Linked DNA regions of Homo sapiens. The protein of the gene in region 1 interacts with the protein of each later gene in a pairwise test. Each region holds a gene or a part of one and is shown on either strand. Other genes may lie near its edges.

Region 1 (4,492 bases):
TGCAGTGGCATGATCTTGGCTCACTGCAGCCTCTCTTCCTGTGTTCAAGTGATTCTCCTGCCTCAGCCTCCTGAGTATGTGGGATTACAGGTACATGCCACCACACCCAGCTAATTTTTATATTTTTAGTAGAGATGGGGTTTCACCATGTTGGCCTGGCTGGTCTTGAATTTCTGACCTCAAGTTATCCACCTGCCGTGGCCTCCCAAAGTGCTGGGATTACAGGTGTGAGCCACTGTGCTTGGCCGGCATGGTCATATTTTAAATATTCTCAAGGTAGAAATAATTATTTGTATAAGGTCTGAATATTTTCAATTGAAAATCAACATTTGCAAGATTTAAAAAAATTCCTCTATTGTAAAAAGGCATTTTTCAAGTTTTGGAATTGGTGAGTTTAGGGACAGAATTCTTGATATTTAATATATTTTATACTTTTAGTCATATGTAAATGGTTATACGTACTTGGTGTTATATGTATTTTTATATCTGTATTGACTTATACATATTCACACATATATTCAATTCAATGGCGATTCCTACGTACCACAGCCATGAGGGACTGAAGTTCTATTTCCAGGGTTTGCAGATTGCGTTTTAATTCGGTCAGCTCATTTCTGGCTGCTGTGGCTGCTCCCTCATGATCGGAAATCTGTTGTTGCAGCGTTGCACTCTGAAGTGTAATTGTCGAAAGGGTTAGTGACTGGCCTGATTGTCTCCTGAGCAAGCCCTTTGTAATTTGCCATAGACCTACCCTCTCGTTGAACCAGGCTTCAGCATCTTTGCGGTTCTGCTCAGCCAAGTCCTCATACTCAGCCCTCATGTTGTTCAACAGGACAGTTAGGTCCACTCCTGGGGTTGCATTCATCTCCACGTTCACGTTCCCCCCAGCTGTATATTGCAAGACTTCCATTTCCTAGAAAAGGGATCGGTATTCATCCTCAGTGGAGGATTTTGATTGATGTTCATGCCCTGCTACGAAATGAACAGTGGACTTCAAGAAGGAAATTAGAAACTGTATGAAGCCACTCTGCAGGCTTCCTTACCTCCTCATGACTTTTTTTGAGGTAGGTCAATTCCTCACTGAGGGTCTCACACTGTATCTCCAGGTCGGTTGTACAAAGGGTCAGTTCATCCAACACTCTGCGAAGACCACTGGTGTCGGCCTCAACACTGTGGTGCAGAGCCAGCTCATTTTCATACCTGAAAGATTAGTAAGGCACCTGAGAGTTGTCATCGTAGGCAGGTGCAAAGCACAACTTTTTAAGGTATTTCATATGCTGAAAGATATGATGTTCTGTACATACCTCTGAAGCTTCTTGCAATGGCAAACTGCTAAAATGGTTTGAGATACCTAACAATTCATGAATTGTATTTTGGGGATGTTATTTCTTCAGAGCTGATTTTTGTCATCCAATGTGCTTAACAATTAAATAAAATATTGCTAGATTTTAGATTTTAAAAAATATGTGATTGCTCTTTTTTGTTGTTTGTTTTTGAGACAGTCTCACTCTGTCACCCAGACTGAAGTGCAGTGGCCCCATCTCAGCTCACTGCAACCTCCACCTTCCGGGTTCAAGTGATTCTCATGTCTCAGCCTCCCAAGTAGCTGGGATTACAGGAGTGAGCCACCATGCCTGACTATTTTTTTGTGTGTGTACTTTTAGTAGAGACGGGGTCTTGCCACATTGGCCAGGCTGGTCTCAAACTCCTGACCTCAAGTGATCTGCCTGCCTCAGCCTCCCAAGGTGCTGGGATTACAGGCATGAGCTACTCTATCCAACCATGATAGCTCTTTTTATAACGGCTTATTTAATTCAATTTCTTTATTGATCTAGTCTGGCTTTAGAAAAACATTTTGGTTTTCAAAGCAAAATATATATTCCTTAATCCAATTGTAATATTTTAACTTTTATTAATATAATTAATCAGTTTGTTTTCACCTACTTCAGCCTGAAGTCATCAGCGGTCAGTCTGGCATTGTCATTTTGTAGAACAATGCTGGCATTGCAGATGGTCGCAGAAATAATCTAAATAGGGAAGATTGTGAAAAATGTTAATTACCAAAAGTCAAAGGAGGCTCCAGACTTCAGTGTGATTTTATATCTTCTTAATCTGTCAAACATCTGTTTTAGTATCTTTTTTCTATGTTAAAGAAATCTGGATTTTCTTCAGATAATAAGCATCCAGAGCTTAAGAGCCACATAGATACTTTTACTACTTTTGATCAAATGGTATGAGCTAAATATATGAAAAACGAAGTGACTATATCTGTTTTGAAATGATTTCTTTTTCATTATTTAATTCTACAAGATTTTATTGCCAGGTACTGTGCTTAGCACTGGAAATACAGAGTGAACAAATCTTACATCACATAAATTTGTTAGGCACATTTTATATTTTCTCTTCTTTAAATTATCAACACACAAAGTCTGTAGTAAAAGTATGCAAATCCCTATTTCTTACCTGCCTTTTAAGATCTTCTATGACTGAGAAGTATCTGCTATAGTCATGATCGTGTTCCCGGGAAGAGCCAGGCTCACATTTCTCGTACCAGCCCTTGATCTTCTGCTCCAGGTCTGCGTTGGCCTCCTCTAGAGCATGCACATGGTCCAGGTAGGATGCCAGGCGGTCGTTGAGATTCTGCATGGTCACCTTTTCATTCCCAGAGAGGAGGCTGTGCTCATTGCCAAGAAAACCAGCACAGGCACCACTTCCCAACCCTCCACCGCTATTGCAGAAGCTTCCTCCAGAAGAGATGCCCTCAAGAGTACAAGAAAAGCTGCTTCTTGCTCCCGATCCAACACACACATTCCCAGCCACGAAGCCTGTTCCTCCACCGGACAGCCTACCAGACCCAGTTCGCGAGCAGATCCTCCTGGATCCACCAGAAAGTCGAAAAGACATGGTGGCAGCACAGCCGGGCAACCCCTTCCCAGAAAGAGGAGCAAAGCCAGGGTTCACCTTCCACACTTGTTAGCTCCCTTGGCCTTTTATAGTATTCACTGGGTCATTTCAGTCTTGACTATGCCAGTCTGTAATAAAATTTACTTGCATCCTAATTGTTGTTTTTCACAATTGGGTAATTTTTAACAGCGTCCAGTCTGTAGGTGGAAAGGTGCCCCAAGGATATTTTTTATATATAAAAATGGTGCCAGGTGAAGTAAAACTAAATCATAGCCTCAAAGGCCAAAATTAAATATGACTAAATGTGCATCTTTTTGGCCACTGGAATATTAATAGAATCTAGATTCTCCCCCTGCCACATATAACAAAGAATTAATAATTCCAATGAGAAATGTCTCCTACTTTTGTCCTGTTAACGCTCATAGAGTATTTCTAGTATTCCCACTTCATTGAGTGCTTCCTTTCTTCCTTTCGTTTCTTTTTCTTTTTTCCTTTTTTTAAAGATATGTGGTCTCGCTATGTTTCCCAGGCTGGTCTCGAACTCCTGGCCTCCAGTGATCCTCAGCCTCAGCACCCAGCTCAGCCTCCTGTGGCCAGCATTACAGGTGTGAGCCACTGCCCTGGGTGTCTGGGTGTGTGTTTTCCTTCTTATCAAAACCAGAAAATCTCAGCATCTATTGATCTTTTGGTAGTGGGAGATTTTAAAAGAAATCTACCATTTCTTGAATTGAAAACTGAAGTAATAGAAATCCTGCAGTCCTGCTTATTGTTAATTTCAATATAATTCATGAATATGTGATGATGGTGGAGAATTAATTCGATTGAGATTTCTTGGTTTGGTCCAGGAGCAGGACATCAATTCAACTAACAGTCTCCAAATTGTTCACTTCCCTACCCCTAAATAGTGTTTACTGTCTTTTAGTTTAAATGTATGTATTTAAGACATTAGGAATTATTTTGAGAAGTGAGCATCATATTGATTAGCAAGGAGTAAAATATATAAGGAGGGAGGTGTTTTCATCATTACCTAGAAAACCAGTACTTATAGTACCCTAGAGAGAAGATAAGTTGTCACAGGGAAGTACTCTTTATTCTCTTGCCTTGATGCTCTTGGGAAGTTATCCAGGCTTGGATCATTTCCCTACTGGGCAAATGAAAATAATAGCATCAAAGAGTCTCAAATGAATGTTGAGCAGTTCCAATCATGAATGACGATAAGACAGTTTGAAAGGCACAAACATTTTTAAATGTTAATTATTTAAATTATTATAATAAAGTGGACATGTCAGACAGGGTCGGGTCTCTATCACCTATAATGATACAAATTGATTGGTTAACTAATTATGGGTTTAGTTTTGAAACAGTAATTTTCTTCCGAATGATATTTTTCAATGTTGTGGATAGTGAATCCTTTGGAAAACATCCAACATTATTGTCACTAAATCGTATGGAACATTTAGTGGACTGCATGGATTTTCTAAATCAAAAATATTTAAAAATAAATAATAAATACAGAGCTATAACTGGACCATCAGCTTATGTTTAGAACAGTGCATGATAACCTAGATACAGTTCCTGTTTAGAGACT
Region 2 (3,043 bases), on another chromosome or scaffold:
GTCGCGCCTCTGCCTTCTCAAACCCCTCCACCATCCCACACCCTCCTCCTGCCCTTCCTCATGAACCCCAGTCGCGCCTCTGCCTTCTCATCCCTGCGCACCACACAGGCTCGCTCGTGCCCGGTGAGTGCTGAGGCTGCTCTGCACGTGGAGTATGGCCCTGTGGGCAAGGGCTGGGCTCTTGGAGGTAGGGGAGCTACAGGGGCGACTGGGAGGAGGATGTTGTGTTACACACGCATCAGAGTTAACTTTGCAGTGAGAGCGGCCTTGCTGCGGCCAAAGAACATGGAAAAGCATGAGTGGGGTGATGTGCCTTAAAGCATCAGACACTTGGGCCTCGGGCATCAGGAGCCAGCCACAGGGATGTCTGGGGAAATGGCGTTCCATGAGATGCAAGCACACAAGAATGCACTTGGCACATCTGGGGAACAGCAGGCAGCTGATATCACTGGGCCCACCCCGCACCAGGGAGGATGGAAGCAGGTGAGGAGCTAGACCACACTGAGGCGGTGGTCGGGACTCGGGGTTTGCTCAGTGAGCCGTTCACTATGTGCAGGGGCAGTTCCCCGTCTGAATTTAGGTGACGACACTCAGGTCCAGCCTTGCCAGTCTCAGCCTCCGGTCTCCGTTCCCCCTCTGCAGAGGCCACATTGTCTGCTGCACGTGATCATGAGGGGTTGTGAAGTGCTTGCCCCATCAGTAGCCATGTGTGCATGTGTAAATACCATCCTCTGTGTGCCCTGGAGGCTGTCCTTCAGATAGCATGTACAGGTGGCAGCATAGGGCCTGTCCCTTCTGAGAGTGCAGGGAACTCAGCACCGTCAACTCCTCGACCCTGCAGGTCAGATTATCCTTGTAGAGGCCCCCTGGATGGCACCAAGATCGGCCCTGGCAAGTAGGTGACCCTGACTTCAGAGCCCTTGCCTGAGGGCCTGGCCTGGCAGCTCTGCTGTTAGAAGCAGGAGGTGTGCAGAGGGTGGGGAGCAGCCCAGCCTCTGTGATCTTCTCCATGGCAGGATCTCCCAGCAGGTAGAGCAGAGCCGGAGCCAGGTGCAGGCCATTGGAGAGAAGGTCTCCTTGGCCCAGGCCAAGATTGAGAAGATCAAGGGCAGCAAGAAGGCCATCAAGGTAGTCCCCATACCCCTGTGTCCTGAGGCTACTGGGCAGTCCCTCCATTTCCCCGTGCCTCTGAGGCTGCCCAGTCTCTGCCCTGCTGCCCACCTGTACCTTGAGCTTTCTTCTCGCCCAGGCTTCCAACTCCACCCTCTCCTGCCAAGCAATCCTAGCCCTCTGAGCCTCTTGGGGCCCCCTCAGACTTGTCCCTGTGTCCACAGGTGTTCTCCAGTGCCAAGTACCCTGCTCCAGGGCGCCTGCAGGAATATGGCTCCATCTTCACGGGCGCCCAGGACCCTGGCCTGCAGAGACGCCCCCGCCACAGGATCCAGAGCAAGCACCGCCCCCTGGACGAGCGGGCCCTGCAGGTCTGCTGGCCGCGCATATAGCCTGTCACACACCAGGAGGACTGGATACTGGGGAGGAGCCGGGGCCACCATAGGGTTCTGTCCCCCAGAGGAGGCTGACTGGGATGGGATGGCAGCTGATTAGGCCCAGCACCAAATATTCACCATCCCTTGGCCATCCTGGCCCTCTCAGGAGAAGCTGAAGGACTTTCCTGTGTGCGTGAGCACCAAGCCGGAGCCCGAGGACGATGCAGAAGAGGGACTTGGGGGTCTTCCCAGCAACATCAGCTCTGTCAGCTCCTTGCTGCTCTTCAACACCACCGAGAACCTGTATGGCCAGAGGGCAGGGCCGAGGGGTGTGGGCGGGAGGCCCGGCCTGGCTTAGTGGGGACCCAGGGCATCAGACACAGGTACAGCACATAGGCCAGGAGCCAGGGGGTGACTGGGGTGGCTCGGCTCGGGAGGCCTGGGACCCCACAGTGCACACTGTGCCCCTGATGATGTGGGAGAGGAACATGGGCTCAGGACAGCGGGTGTCAGCTTGCCTGACCCCCATGTCGCCTCCGTAGGTACAAGAAGTATGTCTTCCTGGACCCCCTGGCTGGTGCTGTAACAAAGACCCATGTGATGCTGGGGGCAGAGACAGAGGAGAAGCTGTTTGATGCCCCCTTGTCCATCAGCAAGAGAGAGCAGCTGGAACAGCAGGTGGGAGGGGTGGGACAGAGGTGGAGACAGGTGCAGTGGCCCAGGGCCTTGCCAGAGCTCCTCTCCAGTCAAGGCTGTTGGGCCCCTTATTCCACCCATGGGAGGTGCACACAAGGTCTTGTTGGCTGCCCCTGCAGGTCCCTGTCACCTCTCACATGTCCCTGCCTAATCTTGCAGGTCCCAGAGAACTACTTCTATGTGCCAGACCTGGGCCAGGTGCCTGAGATCCATGTTCCATCCTACCTGCCTGACCTGCCCGGCATTGCCAACGACCTCATGTACAGTGCCGACCTGGGCCCCGGCATTGCCCCCTCTGCCCCTGGCACCATTCCAGAACTGCCCACCTTCCACACTGAGGTAGCCGAGCCTCTCAAGGTAGGTGAGCTGGGTTCTGGGATGGGAGCTGGGCCGGGGACCTCCCTGCTCACACACCTTCTTCCCTAGACACCCCACACTTTGTGTTTCAGACCTACAAGATGGGGTACTAACACCACCCCCACCGCCCCCACCACCACCCCCAGCTCCTGAGGTGCTGGCCAGTGCACCCCCACTCCCACCCTCAACCGCGGCCCCTGTAGGCCAAGGCGCCAGGCAGGACGACAGCAGCAGCAGCGCATCTCCTTCAGGTGGGAGCAGCTCTTTGAGGCCACCTGATTTCTGGCGTGCTCAGTGCACTCGGGTGGATTTTCTGTGGGTTTGTTAAGTGGTCAGAAATTCTCAATTTTTTGAATAGTTTCCATTTCAAATATCTTGTTCTACTTGGTTCATAAAATAGTGGCTTTCAAACTGTAGAGCTCTGGACTTCTCACTTCTAGGGCAGAGGGAGCCTGAACAAGTGAGGCTCTGGGTTCCTCATTCCTAATTAAACCAATGGAAAG

Evidence for each region.
Region 2: the proteins of KRT26 (region 1) and WASHC1 interact in a two-hybrid assay, tested with the Homo sapiens proteins (one large-scale study listed by BioGRID).

Annotation. Positions count from the first base shown.
Region 1 is NC_000017.11:40,769,210-40,773,701, forward strand, and holds the start of KRT26 (keratin, type I cytoskeletal 26), read right to left. Parts: upstream 2,993-4,492; 5' UTR 2,905-2,992; coding exon 2,464-2,904; intron 2,028-2,463; coding exon 1,945-2,027; intron 1,201-1,944; coding exon 1,044-1,200; intron 914-1,043; coding exon 752-913; intron 671-751; coding exon 545-670; intron 1-544.
Region 2 is NC_000009.12:16,466-19,508, reverse strand, and holds part of WASHC1 (WASH complex subunit 1), read left to right. Parts: exon of another isoform or gene 1-363; coding exon of another isoform or gene 364-483; intron 484-1,016; coding exon 1,017-1,128; intron 1,129-1,334; coding exon 1,335-1,481; intron 1,482-1,653; coding exon 1,654-1,790; intron 1,791-2,029; coding exon 2,030-2,165; intron 2,166-2,342; coding exon 2,343-2,544; intron 2,545-2,632; coding exon 2,633-2,791; intron 2,792-3,043. UniProt on the Homo sapiens protein: Acts as a component of the WASH core complex that functions as a nucleation-promoting factor (NPF) at the surface of endosomes, where it recruits and activates the Arp2/3 complex to induce actin polymerization, playing a key role in the fission of tubules that serve as transport intermediates during endosome sorting.